Regions from separate parts of the Homo sapiens genome. Here region 2 is linked to region 1. A link means that fine-mapping ties the variant in region 1 to the expression of a gene that starts in the linked region. Tissue or cell type: whole blood. Region 1 holds a variant in brackets; the other region holds the start of a gene. All regions are shown on one strand. Distances are between the middles of the regions. Region 1 overlaps DYNC2I1 (dynein 2 intermediate chain 1). Region 2 holds the start of DYNC2I1 (dynein 2 intermediate chain 1).

What was found. PIP is the estimated chance that this variant, and not a neighbour inherited with it, causes the effect.
Region 2: DYNC2I1 starts here. The variant in region 1 is fine-mapped to the expression of DYNC2I1 in whole blood (TOPMed, PIP 0.94).

What each region holds. Positions count from the first base shown.
Region 1 is chr7:158,881,203-158,889,202 of GRCh38, forward strand. It overlaps DYNC2I1 (dynein 2 intermediate chain 1), which reads left to right. Exons shown (of 25, transcript NM_018051.5): 6 at 3,362-3,417; 7 at 5,819-5,873. Among named protein-coding and RNA genes, the nearest start is that of DYNC2I1, 29 kb to the left of the region's middle. The variant A/G (reference allele first, on the strand shown) is at 4,592.
Region 2 is chr7:158,851,540-158,860,063 of GRCh38, forward strand. It overlaps DYNC2I1 (dynein 2 intermediate chain 1), which reads left to right and starts at 5,019. Exons shown (of 25, transcript NM_018051.5): 1 at 5,019-5,211. The coding sequence starts at 5,197. LOC124901796 (a long non-coding RNA gene) reads right to left here and starts at 4,983. Exons shown (of 2, transcript XR_007060627.1): 1 at 4,842-4,983; 2 at 3,599-3,857. RefSeq lists a silencer at 5,075-5,544 and an enhancer at 5,895-6,436.

The sequences.
Region 1 (8,000 bases):
CCTCGCCTTTGCCCTGGGGCCTTTCCTCACTGAGACCCCACTGTCTTCCGCAGCCCACGCCCTCTGTTTGCATCAGGGCGTTGGCCGTGTTTCTTAGCAGGTTTGAGGCAGTGCCGGTTCTGCTACCCGCGTCTACGGTGTGGAAAGCCTGGACTCCCCTCTAGTCAGCCACACGGAAGGTTAGTTGAGGCGGTCACTGAGAAGCAGCTCCTTGAGGACAGATACTCATTTTTTTTGTTTTTATTTATTTTTATTTATTTATTTATTTTGAGACAGAGTCTCGCTCTGTCGCCCAGGCTGGAGTGCAGTGGTGCGATCTCGGCTCACTGCAACCTTGGCCTCCCAGGTTCACGCCATTCTCCTGCCTCAGCCTCCCGAGTAGCTGGGACTACAGGCATGTGCCACCACTCCCGGCTAATTTTTTGTATATTTAGTAGAGACGGGGTTTCACCGTGTTAGCCAGGATGGTCTCAATCTCCTGACCTCATGATCCGCCCGCCTTGGCCTCCCAAAGTGCTGGGATTACAGGCATGAGCTACCGCGCCCGGCCATTTTTTTTGTTTCTAAATCTCTTTCCCTAGATCAAAACTTCATCATTTTCTCCCAACGTTGTGTTACGAACATTTTCAAACATACAGCAAAGTCGACGTAATTTTCCAAAGAACACTCTTGTACCCATAACTTAGACTCCGCTACTTGCCTTTTATTGAACTTGGCTATTCTCCATTCCCTAGATCATGTTTAATTACTGGAAGTGACTTAGGTTACATGTGCTTAGTTCCACCCAGAAATGCCTTTCTGGACATAGATTTGGCTTTTATTAAAGGTGAATGTGAAAAATGGTCGATGAAGAACATTATCCTGTATCTTTGTAAAACCACTGCCTTCAAATTAGTCCCAGAAGAAAGATTATTCAGACGACTGACATTTTCTTTTTAAGACAAGCTGTTCCTATCTGAGTGGCTTGTATGCTGGGCACTGTTCTAGGTGCTGAGGATACAGCTGTGAACAAAACAAAAATTACTGTTCTTATGGTGCTTATGTTGTGTTGGAGAAGCCATAGGATAAAGAACTACCAAAAAAAAACCACCTAAATCTCAGATAGGTGTGGTGGCTTACACCTGGAGTCCTAGCTACTCAGGAGGCTGAGGTTGGAGGATCTGTTGAGCCCAGGAGTTCAAGACCAGCCTGAGAAATATAGTGAGACCCCATCTCTACCAAAAAAAAAAATTTAGCCAGGCATGGTGGCACACAGCTGTAGTCCCAGCTACTACAGAAGCTGAGGTGGGAGGATCACTTGAGCCGAGGAGGTCAAGCCTGCAGTGAGCTGTGATCATATCACTGCAGTCCAACCTGCGTGGTACAGTAAGACCTTGTCTTAAAAAAGAGACCAGGCATGGTGGCTCACACCTATAATCCTAGCACTTTGGGAGGCCGAGACAGGTGGATCACTTGAGGTCAGGAGTTCGAGACCAGCCTGGCTAACATAGTGAAACCCTGTCTCTACTAAAAAATACACAAAAATTAGCCAAGTATGGTGGCACGTGCCTGTAATCCCAGCTACTTGGGAGGCTGAGGCAGGAGAATTGCTTGAACCTGGGAGGAAGAGGTTACGGTGAACTGAGATCGTGCCACTGCACTCCAGACTGGAGGACAGAGTGAGCCTTTGTCTCAAAAAAAAAAAAAAAAGGAAAAGAAATGAACAGATACACGATACAATATCAGGAATGGGGATCGAGCATTGTATAATTAAAGATTTTTTCCTTTGCGTTGACTTTCAGAAATTCAAAACTTTTGAGTACTTTTGATACTCAAAATTAGTATCAATTTTAGATATTCTTCAACTGAGTACTCTGAACCTACTGCTTGATGTAATTATCCTGTGGTTACCGTAAAGTGCAAGGTGCACTGCTAATAATTACGCCAGGACAACAGATAGAAACTGGGACTGTTCCCGGGGATGGATGTTCTCTGTGATTCTCTCTCACTTTCTCTATATGATATTTTTTCTTCTTCTTTTTTTTTTTTTTTTTGAGATTGAGTCTCACTGTATCGCCCAGGCCAGAGAGCAGTGGTGTGATCTTGGCTCACTGCAGCCTCCGCCTCCTGGGTTCAAGTGATTCTCCTGCCTCAGCCTCCCGAGTGGCTGGGATTACAGGTGTGCATCTGGCTTATTATTATTTTTTTTTTTTTTGTATTTTTAGTAGAGTTTCGCCATGTTGGCCAGGCTGGCCTCGAGCTCCTGACCTCAGGTGATCCTCCTGCCTTGGCCTACCAAGGCCAAGTGTTACAGGTGTGAGTCATGGTGCCTGGCCTCTATATGATTTTTGATCCATGATTTTAATTAGAATGATATAACTTTTATTGTAAGCTTCCTCCAGTTATCAATTTGAGATAGAGTATGAGTAAGTACAATAAATATACAAAATGTTCTAAGCTTCCTGACCAGTGACTTCTTTTTTTTTTTTTTTTTTTTTTTGAGACGGAGTCTTGCTCTGTTGCCCAGGCTGGAGTGCATTGGCGCAATCTCGGCTCACTGCAAGCTCCGCCTCCCGGGTTCACGCCATTCTCCTGCCTCAGCCTCCCGAGTAGCTGGGACTACAGGCGCCCGCCACCACACCCGGCTAATTTTTTTGTATTTTTAGTAGAGACGGAGTTTCACCGTGTTAGCCAGGATGGTCTCGATCTCCTGACCTCGTGATCCGCCCGCCTCGGCCTCCCAAAGTGCTGGGATTACAAGCGTGAGCCACCGCGCCCGGCCCAGTGACTTCTTTAATAGAAGAATCCAGTGGCCTCATCTCGTTGTTATCCTATCTGCCACACCTTTATCCTTTTAAAAAACAATTTTTTTTTTTTTTTTGAGATGGAGTCTCGCTCTGTCGCCCAGGCTGGAGTGCAGTGGCGCAATCTCTGCTCATTGCAAGCTCCGCCTCCCGGGTTCACGCCATTCTCCTGCCTCAGCCTCCCGAGTAGCTGGGACTACAGGCGCCCGCCACCACGCCCGGCTAATTTTTGTATTTTTAGTAGAGACGGGGTTTCTCCGTGTTGGTCAGGCTCGTCTATAACTCCCGACCTCAGGTGATGCGCCCGCCTTGGCCTCCCAAAGTGCTGGGATCACAGGCGTGAGCCACCGTGCCCAGCATAATCACCCTTTTATATATACTTTTATCCATTTTCTTTACATTTAATTATCTAATTTACTAAAAATAACTGGTAAAAATAGTTATTTTAAAAGGTACTTGTGATGTACATGCTGTTGTTAAATTTTGAATCTGTGCTTGTTTTGTGGGGTTTACTAATTATGCTTACTTCATTCCGATATGCTAATAAATGGTTATGGGATTATATTTTTGTTTGATAGAATGGTGAACACAGAAATCGAGGTGCAAGCTCAAAAAGAGATGGGACCAGCAGCCAGTAAGGATTGCATGCCCTGTGGTCGACCTTTACGTGTGCCGCTCTCATGGAATGCTTCAGGGAATTTTCTTATTGGCTCCGATGACGGCCAGTCCATGGCAATCAGTTATAGATATACTTCATTTTCTCTAGATTTTACCCCTTAGCCCCTCCAAATGGGTTGGTAGGTTTTTGGAATACTGGAGGAGCTTGGAAACTTAATATATTATTAGCTTTCTTTGGCCTTTTAAATTAATTATATTTTAATTTTTTCATTTTAATATTATTGTTTGTATTTATTGCCTCAGGATCTACTTTTGTCCTTTTTAACATTTGCTCATGCAAAATTAGAAAATTGGTACTCACTTTGGGGAGAATAATTCACTTGGGAGTCACTTAATGTGCAAGAGGGAGTCCTCCCTGCCTGAAGCTAAAGCAAATCCGCAGGTGGGCAGTTTTGCACCTTTACGCACCTGAGCAAACCATTCTGGTTCACAGCCACTAAAAACAGGACGTGCCGGCGAGTCCCCCTCTGCCCACTGTTTATCACTTGTGAACACACGGGATAACATTCCGCCCTCAGGCCTTGGCAGAGACCCCCAGAGCTGGGGGTGGGGGTCAGCCTTGGTTGGAATTTCCTGTCTACCTCTTAGTTGCAGTGTTGGGTGGCTTTTCGCTAAAGCAGTGATGATAATTCCTGTCTCGTGTGGGTTTTGCAATACATAATTGGAGTTTATGTATAAACTCTTTTTTTTTTTTTTGAGACAGAGTCTCACTTTGTTGCCGAGCCTGGAGTGCAGTGGCGCAATCTCGGCTCACTGCAACCTCCGCCTCCCAGGTTCAAGCTATTCTTCTGCCTCAGCCTCCCAAGTAGCTGGAACTACAGGCACATACCACCACACCCAGCTAATTTTTGTATTTTTGGTAGAGATGGAGTTTCACCATGTTGGCCAGGCTGGTCTTGAACTCCTGGCCTCAAGTCATCCACCTGCCTTGGCCTCCCAAAGTGCTGGGATTACAGGCGTGAGCCACTGTGCCTGGCCTAAACTCTCATATGTAAGCCCTAGACTTTAATTTGTTCTTTCTGACAATCATATTTTGTAATCGTTTTTCAAAGATTAGAAAACCCAGGTTAAATATCTTACCCAAATTTTTACAAGTTTGGGCAAAGCTAACACTTAAACCTAGGGTGTCA[A/G]TTCCTGGATTTTATACTGCATGTCCACTAGAAGGCACAATAAGACTTTTTTTGCTCAATTCTGTATTTTTGTTAAACCGCATGGTATATTGATATGAATGAAAGTTTAAAAATTGAGAATCAGTTTGATATTTTGCAAATCTTTATTTTAGGTCCTAACATGAAATGTGATTAAAATATAAAACATTTCAAGATAAATCTTTCTTTTAGAAAGATTTTATATTTTTATTTTATATTACATATTATATAACATATTTATATTTTATATATATCTTTTATATTTAATATAAAATAGTATTTCAGATAGACCAATAAAATTATAGAAAATTTCTACAACTCTTTTTATTTTTTGTTTTGTGATGGAGTCTTGCTCTGTCGCCAGGCTGAAGTGCAGTGGCATGATCTCGGCCCACTGTAACCTCTACCTCCCTGGTTCAAGCAAATTCCCCTGCCTCAGCCTCCTGAGTAGCTGGGATTACAGGCACACGCCACCACGCCTGGCTAATTTTTTTGTATTTTTAGTAGAGATGGGGTTTCTCCATGTTGGCCAGACTGGTCTCGAACTCCTGACCTCAGGCAGTCTGCCCACCTTGGCCTCCCAAAGTGCTGGGATTACAGGTGTGAGCCACTGCGCCCGGCCGAGAACTTGTAAAGGATGTAGATTTGCACTCACAAGTTTGTTAAAACACATAATTTCTTCTCTGGAAGATATTTTCTGTCTTGAATTATTGCTAAAATAGTAAGAATGCTAGGAAGACTTTAACATTTATTGCTCTAATAAAACATGCTTTGCTAACCTGAAACAGTTTTTTAAAAAAATTATTTTTTGAGAAAGGGTCTTTCTCTGTCGCCCAGGCTGTAGTGCAGTGGCACAATCATGGCTCACTGCAGCTTCAAACTCCTGGGCTCAAGCAAACCTCCTGCCTCAGCCTCCCAAGTAGCTGAGACTACAGGCATGTGCCACCATGCCAGGCTAATTTTTTATTTTTGTAGAGATGGGGTCTACTCTGTTGCCCAGGCTGGTCCCGAACTCCTGGCCTCAAGTGGTCCTCCTGCCTCAATCTCCCAAATAGCTGGGATTACAGGTGCAAGTCATCGCTCCTGGTTGTAGTAGTTCTTAATCATATCAAAATATTGTTAAGAGCTTTCACTGATATGGAAAATGTTTTATTTTTTAAAAGCTCTCATTTAAAGTAAGTTTTGATTTTGATTATGTTTGCTTTCCAGGCATGCTGAGAATTTAGTAAGGAATCATGGAAAAGATAAAGATTCAAGACGGAAGGTAAGGCAGTCTCCACTGAGAATACATTGATTTTATGGTACATTGAGATTAACCATAATCTTACTTTGGGCTTCCCCTTGAAACCAGAGGCCGAGACAGGGCTCATTTGCAGATGGTTTATTCGAGTGGTGATCCCAGAAGGCACACTGGAGACTCACTTTAGGTTAGAAGATGCAAATTGATTGAAAGTAAAAAGGTGGACAAAGAGAATCTATCAGACAGCAGCTATGAGAGGGCTGGATTGGCTACACTAGTATCAGATAAAACAGATTTTGAGACAGAAAGTGTTACTAGAGAGAGACAATTCAGAATGAGCAAATAATTGGTTCAGCAGAAGGCGATAAAACAATTGTAAATGGATATTTACCTAACAAGAGGGTCCCAAAACACAAGCAGCAAAAACTGACAGAATTGAAGGGAGAAAGAGACAATTAATAATAATAGTAACTTTAGCACCCCACTTTCAGTAACAGGTAGGACAATATTTTATGGTAACAAATTAGGTAATTTAGATGAAAGGACAAATTCCTAGAGACTATCAGTTACTAAAACTGCTGGAAGCAGTAGCCTGAATAGACCTATAGTGAGTCAAGACATTGCGTTTGTGTTACAGATCTCCCCACAAAGTCGCTCAGGCTCTGATGGCTTCTCTGGCAAATTCTACCAAGCACATGTTATTAATAGACACTTGTTACTAACACACAATCATCATCCCTCTCCTTGCATAATTGTTTCCATGTGTTAAGCTACCTTGTGACATGTATTTATGCACAGGGAGAATTGTACCCTGTGCTGAGCTTGTCAATTAGTACATCAGCGTTTCTCCACAGTCTTCATTATCTTCACTGTCTCCATTAGGATCATAAGAGTAGGCTTTGTAATGATTACTTAGTGACTCTAAAATAGCACACTGTGGAGTTAGGGTTATTATCAAACCATTGTCCTTTTTTTTTTTTTTTTTTTTTTTTGAGACAGGTCTCACTCTGTTGCCCAGGCTGGAGTGCAGTGGCACGATCTCGGCTCACTGCAACCTCCGCCTCCCGGGTTCAAGCGATTCTCCTGCCTCAGCCTCCTGAGTAGCTGGGACTATAGGCATGCGCCACCATGCCCGGCTAATTTTTGTATTTATAGTAGAGATGGGGTTTCACCATATTGGCCAGTCTGGTCTGGAACTCCTGACCACATGATCTGCCGACCTCGGCCTCCCAAAGTGCTGGGATTACAGGCGTGAGCCACCGCACCCAGCCTTTTTGTTTTGTTATTACAGATAATGTGGCAAGCATATTTTGGATTCTATGAATTATTTCTGGAGAATAATTTTTTCTTCTTTGATCGTTATCTGAAACCCATGATTCTGAGGTAATCATATTTAACAATTTTGTGCCATACATACATATATATATATATATACGTTGAGATGGAGTCTCACTCTGTTGCCCAGGCTGGAGTGCAGTGGCGTGATCTCAGCTCACCTCAACCTCTGCCTCCTGGGTTCAAGCGATTCGTGCCTCAGCCTCCTGAATAGCTGGGATCACAGGCATGCGCCACCACACCCAGCTAATTTTTGTATTTTTAGTAGAGACAGGGTTTCACCATGTTGGCCAGGCTGATCTTGAACTCCTGACCTTAGGTGATCCACCTGCTTTGGCCTCCCAAAGTGCTGGGATTACAGGCGTGAGCCACTGCGCTTGGCCTTTGTGCAGTATTTTTATGAATTGCTTTATTCTATGTCCGTACACAAACATAATTTTACATAAATTAGGTCATACAGCACCTGTTGTTTTGACGTGGATGTTTTATTTCTTTAATTTTGGTGGTGGTGGTTGGATTGCTTATTATCTGGCTATAGCCACACATTTACCACAGAAAAAAATACCTACAAATATTTCTTCTCATATAATCTTTTATAATCATATATTGGTATGTATATTTAGGAGTTTGGAAGCCAGTTTTAAACATTTACACACACACACACACACACACACACACACCCCTCCTGTTTTTCTTTTTTTTTTTTTTTTTTGACATGGGGTCTCGCTTTGTCACCCAGGCTGGAGCGCAGTGGCGCGATCTTGGCTCACTGCAAGCTCTGCCTCCCGGGTTCACGCCATTCTCCTGCCTCAGCCT
Region 2 (8,524 bases), 29 kb before region 1:
TATTTTTAGGTAAAGTTCTAGCAAAGCCAACTTAAGAAGAGTGTATATAGTCAATTGGTTCTTGCTGCACTTTATGCAAATCATCAGGCCAACTATAATAAGACTAAAACGTATTTTCCACACAAGTTGATCTTATTATAATGTCTCTTTATTAGAAAAGGAGGGCTAGAGAGAAACTGAGTCAAAGGAAAAGTGTAACACTTGTTACTGATGACTGTCCTGACTTCTGTTTTTGAGTGCAGATTGAATCATGAATCATCTCTGGGCTGCAAGAATCCTCTAAAGAGCACCAGGCTACAATTTTGATTCATATTTATAGTTGGTGCCCCAGCAGAATAGGTTCTTTCTTCTGTTCTGACACACAAATACTATTCTGATTATCAAATTATTAATGTTATTTATCTCTTCTTGTTTTACTTCCAAGGAAACCAGAATCACGGAATTCTAAAAAGATGTGGCATTGGCACTCGGGCATTCCACTGTGCCTGATCTGTTTTCATGGCCAGTGCCCTGCTAACCCTACACAGGCACCCTCCCTCTAGGGCCAGGGACCATAGCAGAAGAGCTGGGCGCCTGAGATTCTAAGGGCTGTTTTTTTTTTTCTTAGATGGAGTTTTGCTCTTGTTGTCTGGAGTGCAGTGGTGTGATTTTGGCTCACTGCAACCTCTGCCTCCTGGTTTCAAGCGATTCTCCTGCCTCAGCCTCCTGAGTAGCTGGGATTGCAGGTGCCTGCCACCATGCCTGGCTAATGTTTGTATTTTTGGTAGAGACGGGGTTTTACCATGTTGGCCAGGCTAGTCTTGAATTCCTGACCCTGTGATCCGCCCGCCTTGGCCTCTCAAAGTGTTGGGATTACAGGCATGAGCCACCGCGCCCGGCCTGTAAGCGCTGGTTTTGAGGGAGAGAATTAGTTCAGACCGGCTGGGCATGGTGGCTCACGCCTGTAATCCTAGCACTTTGGGAGGCCAAGGTGGGCAGATCACAAGGTCAGGAGTTCGAGACCAGCCTGGCCAACATGGTGAAACCCCGTGTCTACCAAAAATACAAAAATTAGCCAGGCGTGGTGGGAGGTGCCTGCAGTCCCAGCCAGTCAGGAGGCTGAGGCAGGAGAATTGCTTGAACCCTGGAGGCGGAGGTTGCAGTGAGCTGAGATCGCGCCATTGCATTCTAGCCTGGGGGACAAGAGCGAGACTTCGTCTCAAAAAAATAAAAATAAAAAATTTTATTAGCCATTTTAGGACAAATTACTAAAGGACAATAAAAAGCATTGCAGCACAACAAAAGTCTCTAAAAATCCTTAGCTTAAAAGGTTTTAACAATGCTTATGTTCTGTATAGCTAATTGCTATAAGTCTGTAACTAAAACCAAGATTACAGTAGCTCAGTCAGGTTTGTAACCTCGCCCTTGGCTTTTTGTTTGTTGGCTTTTTACTTAAATTTTTAAGGGTTAATGAATGCTTGTCTGTGTCCATTCCCATTTGGCCTAGAACATTTTAATTGGCTACAAGTCTTTTGACTCTAAGTCTCTTGGCCATAGGGTGTCCCGCTGAGAGACAGGACAGATCCAGGGCAGGCAGCCATGTCACCCTGGCAATGCTATGGAACAAAACAAAAGCTTGGTGGCCACTGGTGTTGCCTCTGACAAATGTTGGCCACAAGGGGAGGATGTAAACCAAAAATAAAATTGTAAGACCCCCAACCATCTGAATGGACCACTCCTCCTTGGCCAAGGGCATTCCAAACTTAACCTGAAGAAGTAGTTCAGGACATGATGGGAAGAGGGAGATGGACATGCCTCATGATACCCTCCTCCCTTTTGGAATCACGGATGGAACAGGCTTCTTTAAGTCTGGTAAGAAGCATTTACAGTCGATTCTCTCTGAAGCCTGCTACCTGGAGGCCTCATCTGCATGGGGTGACCAAGGTTTTCTTGGTCATTATCAGTGTGAAGTTGAACAGTCTTTCGTTTTAGACCTTAGTTTTTATGAGCTGGACTTGTAACCGCCCAACAGGTTCTCCTTGCCGGCTGCTCAGACAGAGATGATTTATCTAGATAGGAAATTGCAATAGAGAAAGAATTTAATTCACGCAGAGCCGGCTGTATGGGAGACCAGAGGTTTTTTTTTTTTTTTTTAGATGGAGTTTTGCTCTTGTTGCCCAGGCTGGAGTGCAGTGGCGCGATCTTGGCTCACTGCAACCTCCCACTCCTGGGTTCAAGAGAGTCTCCTGCCTCAGCCCCCAAGTAGCTGGGATTACAGGCATGTACCACCACACCCAGCTAATTTTGTATTTTTAGTAGAGACGGGCTTTCTCCATGTTGGTCAGGCTGGTCTCAAACTCCCGACCTCAGGTGATCTGCCTGCCTCAGCCTCCCAAAGTGCTGGGATTACAGGCATGAGCCACCATGCCCAGTGGAGTTTTATTATTGCTCAAATCAGTGTCCCCCAAAATTTGAGGATTGGAGTTTGAAGGATAATTTAGTGGGTGGGGGGGCGTTGAGAAGTGGGGAGTGCTGATTGGTAGGATTGGAGATGAAATCAGGGAATCCAAGCTGTCTTCTTGCGCTGAGTCAGTTCCTAAGTGGGGGTCACAAGACCAGATGAGCCAGTTTATCCATCTGGGTTGCACCAGCCGACCCATTGAGTGAAGGGACTGAAAAATGTCTCAAGCACCAATCTTAGGTTTTACAATAGTGATATTATCCCTAGGAGTAATTGAGGAGGTTTAGAATCTTGTGGCCTTTAGCTGCATGACTCCTAAACCATAATTTCTAATCTCATGGCTAATTTGTTAGTCCTCCAAAGGCCATCTAGTCCCCAGCAAGAAGAGGGTTTGCATCATTCTCAGCAAACTATCACAAGAACAGAAAACCAAACACCGCATGTTCTCACTCATAAGTGGGAGTTGAACAATGAGAACACATGGACACAGGGAGAGGAACATCACACGTGGGGGTCTGTCGGGGGGGGCTGGGGGATAGCATTAGGAGAAATACCTAATGTAGATGACGGGTTGATGGGTGTCGCAAACCACCGTGGCATGTGTATACCTATGTAACAAACCTGCACGTTCTGCACATGTACCCCAGAACTTAAAGTATAATAATAATAAAAAAAGAGAAGGGGGTTTGTTTTGGGAAAGGGCTGTTATCTTTCTTTCAAAGTTAAACTATTCTACGACCAGGAATGGACAAGGACAGCTTGGAGGTTAGAAGCAAGATGGAGTCAGGTTAGATCTCTTTCACTGTCATAATTTTCTCAGTTCTAATTCTTGCAGAGGTAGTTTCAGACTTAAGTTGCAGATCTAAAGTTACAATTGGCGTGTCTTTGTTTAAGTGAGGACACACATCTTGAAAGGTCTCCAGGCTGGCAAAACATTTACACCTGGGAGACTGGTGGGGGCCAAGGTGCCCGGCCCTGCCTTCACGGGGGCCTGGCTGGCAGGAGCCTTGCAGCCTGCAAAGCAACAGCTGTGCATTTGGAAGAGGGTGTTGGGCGACTCGGCTTGCAACCACCCAAGGGGTTCACCTTGCCCGCTGCCTAGACAGAGCCTATCGAGATGGGGGAATTGCAATAGAGAAAGAGTAATTTACACAGAGCTGGCTGTGCAGGAGACTAGAGTTTTATTATTACTCAAATCCATCTCCTTGAGCATTGAAGCATTCAGGGATCAGAGTTTTCAAGGATAACTTGGGTGGGGGGAAGCCAGTGAGCCAGGAGTGCTGATTGGTCAGAGATGAAATCATAGGGAGTCAAAGCGGTCTTCTTGCCCTTATCAGTTCCTGGGTGAGGGGCCACAAGATCTGATGAGCCAGTTTATTGATCTGGGTGGTGCCAGCTGATCCATCAAGTGCAGGTTCTGCAAAATATCTCAAGCACTGATCTTAGGAGCAGTTTAGGGAGGGTCAGAATATTGTAGCCTCCAGCTGCATATTAGAAACTACTCCTAAAACGTAATTTCTAATCTTGTGGCTAACATCAGTCCTACAAAGGCAATCAAGTCCCCAGGCAAGAAGGCCTGCTTTGGGAAAGGGCTGTTACCGTCTGTGTTTAAATTATAAAATATAAACTAAGTTTCTCCCAAAGTTAGTTCAGCCTACTGCCAGGAAGGAACAAGCACAGCTTGGAGGTCAGAAGCAAGATGCTGTGGGTTAAGTTACACCTCTTTTACTGCCTCAGTCATAATTTTGAAAAGGCGGTTTCAGGCTTTCAGCCCTAACTTTCCCTTTGGCTGAAGGAGTTCGGAGGTCCTGAGAGTTTTTGATTTTCCCTTACGTGTTGTATAAAAACAGTCTCTCAACGTTGATTCCTGCCTACCTTACTGCTTGTTTTTATCAAAAGACGACATATGGGAATATAATTTGTTAAGTGCAAAGCCTTATTCAAATGTAAAGCTCTTTTCTTTTTTTTTTTTTTTTTTTTGAGACAGAGTCTCGCTCTGTCGCCCAGGTTGGAGTGCAGTGGCGTGATCTCCGCTCACTGCAAGCTCCGTCTCCCAGGTTCACGCCATCCTTCTGCCTCAGCCTCCCGAGTAGCTGGGACTACAGGCGCCTGCTACTGCGCCCAGCTATTTTTTTTTTTTGTATTTTTAGTAGAGACGGGGTTTCACCGTGTTAGCCAGGATGGTCTCGATCTCCTGACCTCATGATCCACCCGCCTCCGCCTCCCAAAGTGCTGGGATTACAGGGGTGAGCCACCGCGCTCGGCCTCAAACGTAAAGCTCTTTTCAATATCTGCTCTCCCTTTCTATCTTCCCCGACTGTCAGTCCGGTCCCGTGGGAACCCGGGGCGGGTTGGGGCGAGTCAAGAGCCCCTGCACCCCAAGTCAGGGTACTGCACCTACCCCTTGGGGAGACCAACGACCGCTCGGTCCTCTGCTGCTCCTGCCTGGCGGTTGCTAGGAGCCGGGGAAGCGCAGGCGCATTGGGAGGGGCCGCGGGCACGCCGAGCAGCGACCACTCGGCCTTCCCCTGCTCCTGCCTGCCAGGTGCTAAAAATGCCGGGGATGCGCAGGCGCACTGGGAGAGGCCGCAGGGCACGCTGGGCAGTGCTTCTGGGCCCTCTGCTGCTCCTGCTTGTCGGTTGCTAGGCGCTGGGACGCGCCTCCCGAAGGGTGCGGGGCACAGGTGGCCTCTTCGGGGTGGACCGCGCCTGGCCGGGGCCGAGGACACCGCGGCCGCCCGGGCCTGCGGGAAGCGATGGAGCCCGGGAAGGTCGGTGCGGCGCTGGGTCTGGGCGAGGGGTGGTCGAGCTTCGCGGACTCCTTCGGGCGCCGCTAGCAGCGCCGCCGCCGCCCTCCCTTTGCGCAGCGGTTCTCTCGGCCGGGCCGGGGCTTCCCGGAGGAGCCGCGGTGCCTCCGAGGCAGGAAGGGAAACGGAGGCGCGGCTGGCCGTCGGCGCGAGGGATGGCAGGACGCCGGGCTCCCGGCGGTCGGGAGAGGCGGTCTGTGCAGCCTCAGGCCTGGGGTCGCCGCCGCGGCCCGTCTCCTCGCGCCCGGCCTGGAGGCGGCCTCGGCCCCTGCTGCGGGGCCGGGGTGGCTGAGGAGACATATTTAAAAGTTTATTAAATTTTAGCTGACTTAAGTTTAAATATGACTTGTCACAGTTTAAGAGGTTGAGAGAGTGCAGCCTGGGTGCTTGAGTTTGAATTCAGGATTTTGTATTTACTTGTATGACCTTGGCAAACTCACTTAACATGTCTTGTTTCCTAATTCATTCAATGGGCACAATAATAATAGCAACATTATAGGGTGTTTAAGAAGGTTAAGTGAGATATTATGTGTAAAAGTGCATAGACCAGTGCCTGCTTTCATTAACACTCAATAAATGTTAGATATTACTGTATTATTCTTATCTATTGATTCCCCACTGAAAGATGAGGAATTTAATTTGCATACATTTTCTTCTACCTTCACTCCTATTATTTTTTCCCCATCACTTACCTTTATGTGTTGAATAATACTCCTTAATTTGTATTTTATGTTATATAAACCTTAGGTTTTTGTTTTTTTTTTTTTTTTGAGATGGAGTCTCACTCTGTCACCAGGCTGGAATGCAATGGCACGAACTTGGCTTACTGCAACCTCCGACTCCAGGGTTCAAGAGATTCTCCTGCCTCAGTCTCCCGAGTAGGTGGGATTACAGATGTCCGCCACCAAGCCCAGCTGATTTTTGTATTTTTAGTAGAGATGAGGTTTCACCGTGTTGGCCAGGATGGTCTTGATCTCCTGACTTCGTGAGCCACTGCACCCGGCCTTTTTTTTTTTTTTTTTTTAAAGATAATTCCCCTTGTCGCCCAGGCTGGAGTACAGTGGCACGATCTCTACTCACCGCAACCTCCAACTCCTGGGTTCCAGCGATTCTCCTGCCTCAGCCTCCCGAGTAGCTGGGATTACAGGCAGGTGCCACTATGCCTGGCTAATTTTTGTATTTTTAGTAGGGATGGGGTTTCTCCATGTTGGTCAGGCTGGTCTCGAACTCCTGACCTCCGGTGATCCGCCCGCCTTGGCCTCCCAAAGTGCTGGGATTACAGGCGTGAGCCACCGCGCTAGGCCAACCTTAGATAGTATTTTTTAACTTTCCCCTAGTTAAGATTAAGAAGCTACTGCCCTGCACTCCCCATTTCTCCCTAAACCCACTAATTTCCTGACCCTGTCATCTTCTATGCTATTCTCTTTACATTTCTTTAAGTTACTCTGTAACTTACATTGTCCGTGATTTGTTTATAGGTTGATTTTAAAAATGAAAACCAATAAACACTATAACATCATGGTTATATACGTTTTCATTGCAGAACCAAATAGTCAGATTGGACCAATAGATACAATGGAGTCCTGTATTCTAAGCTCACTCTACTCAGGGAACAATGTTTCTGGTGTCAGGGTCAAAGGGGTCATCTTTTGTTACATTCAGTTAATGTACCACAATGAAGTTTGCTTATCATTTGGACCATGTCTTTCATAAATGGCCCTATTTGCCCTGTTTTTTTAGTTTTGGCAAAAAAGAACATAAGCTGTTTTAAATTTTTAAACCTTATGATGTCTTCTAGCTTATTAGTGTCATATTACCTGTTTAATGAAATTCTCTTAAATTCTTCCCAGAGCTCACTGACTTTATGTTCTCATCAGGACAAATTGTTTTCTAGACATGCACAGAGCTATGATCTGGGAATTCTTTCTCATTGTGCTTCTGGGTTAGGCCTACTGTTTCTTGGATCAAGTGTCTCCCTCTTTTTTGAAATCTCCATGCTTTTTCCAGTGGAGTATCCCCTCCCCCCACTTTCCTCTCCCCTCCCCCCTCCCCTTTCCCCTCCCTTCCTCTCCCCTCCCCTTTCCCCTGCCCTCCCCTTTCCCCTCCCTTCTCCTCCTCTCCCCTCCCCTCTCCCCTCCCCCCTCCCCTTTCCTTTCCTCCCCTCCCCTCCCCTTTCCTCCCCTCCCCTTTCCTCCCCTCCCCCCCTTTCCTTTCCTCTCCTTTCCTTTCTTCAGAGTCTTGCTCTTTCACCCAAGTTGGAGTGCAGTGACACGCTCACAGCTCACTGCAGCCTAAACCTCCCAGGCTCAAGCAACGCTCTTGCCTTGGCTTCCCAAAGTGCTGGGACTACAGGTGCGAGCTACCATGCCTGGCCTGTCGCATACCTTTTTAGACAAGAGTATATGTGGGAAGAAAACTGTATGCCCTAAGAATATCCTTATTATACTGATAGATTGTTTAAGAGTTTGGCTTAGCATAGAATTCTAGGAGCAAAATAATTTCCCAGAACTTTGAAGATGGTTTACTTTTGTCTTCTAGCAGTGTGTTTGGCTGATGAGATATCTTTGTGAGTAACATTTTCTTTCTCTCCAGAAGATTTAGGATCTTTATCTGTGATGTTTTGAATATGGATGTAGTTTGTTATAGATCTTTTTTCATTCGTTATTTTTGACATTTGACTGTCCCTTGGGGTTTTATTCTGATACATATTTAATACATAAAATTCATTTTTTTTGAGACAGAGTCTCGCTCTGTCGCCCAGGCTGGAGTGCAATGGCGTGATCTCAGCTCACTGCAACCGCCACCTCCCAGGTTAAAGCGGTCCTCCTGTCTCAGGCTCCTGAGTAGCTGGGATTACAGATGTGTGTCATCACGCCCAGCTAATTTTTGTATTTTTAGCAGAGACGGGATTTCATCGTGTTGTCCAGGCTGGTCTTGATCCGCCCACCTCGGCCTCCCAAAGTGCTGGGATTATAGGCATGAGCCACTGTGCCAGGCCAGTAAATAAACATTTTTAAAGTAGCAAAAGCAACAGATCTCAGAGCTGGATATTTCCTGGCAACTAATGAATTCCTGTAACAGGTTCTCAATTGCAAGTCGGTCTTTAACTTTTTAGGAAGTTAACCCATGGGTCATTAGAATCTAATTATGTAACTATTAGGCTGTGATATAGAATTAATTAGTATAGTCTATTTCATAAGGTAAGGGGAAGGATAAAGTTTTCATGAGATTACTGGAATAAAATTGTATTGGATTATTTTGGTATTAGAGTTTTTTT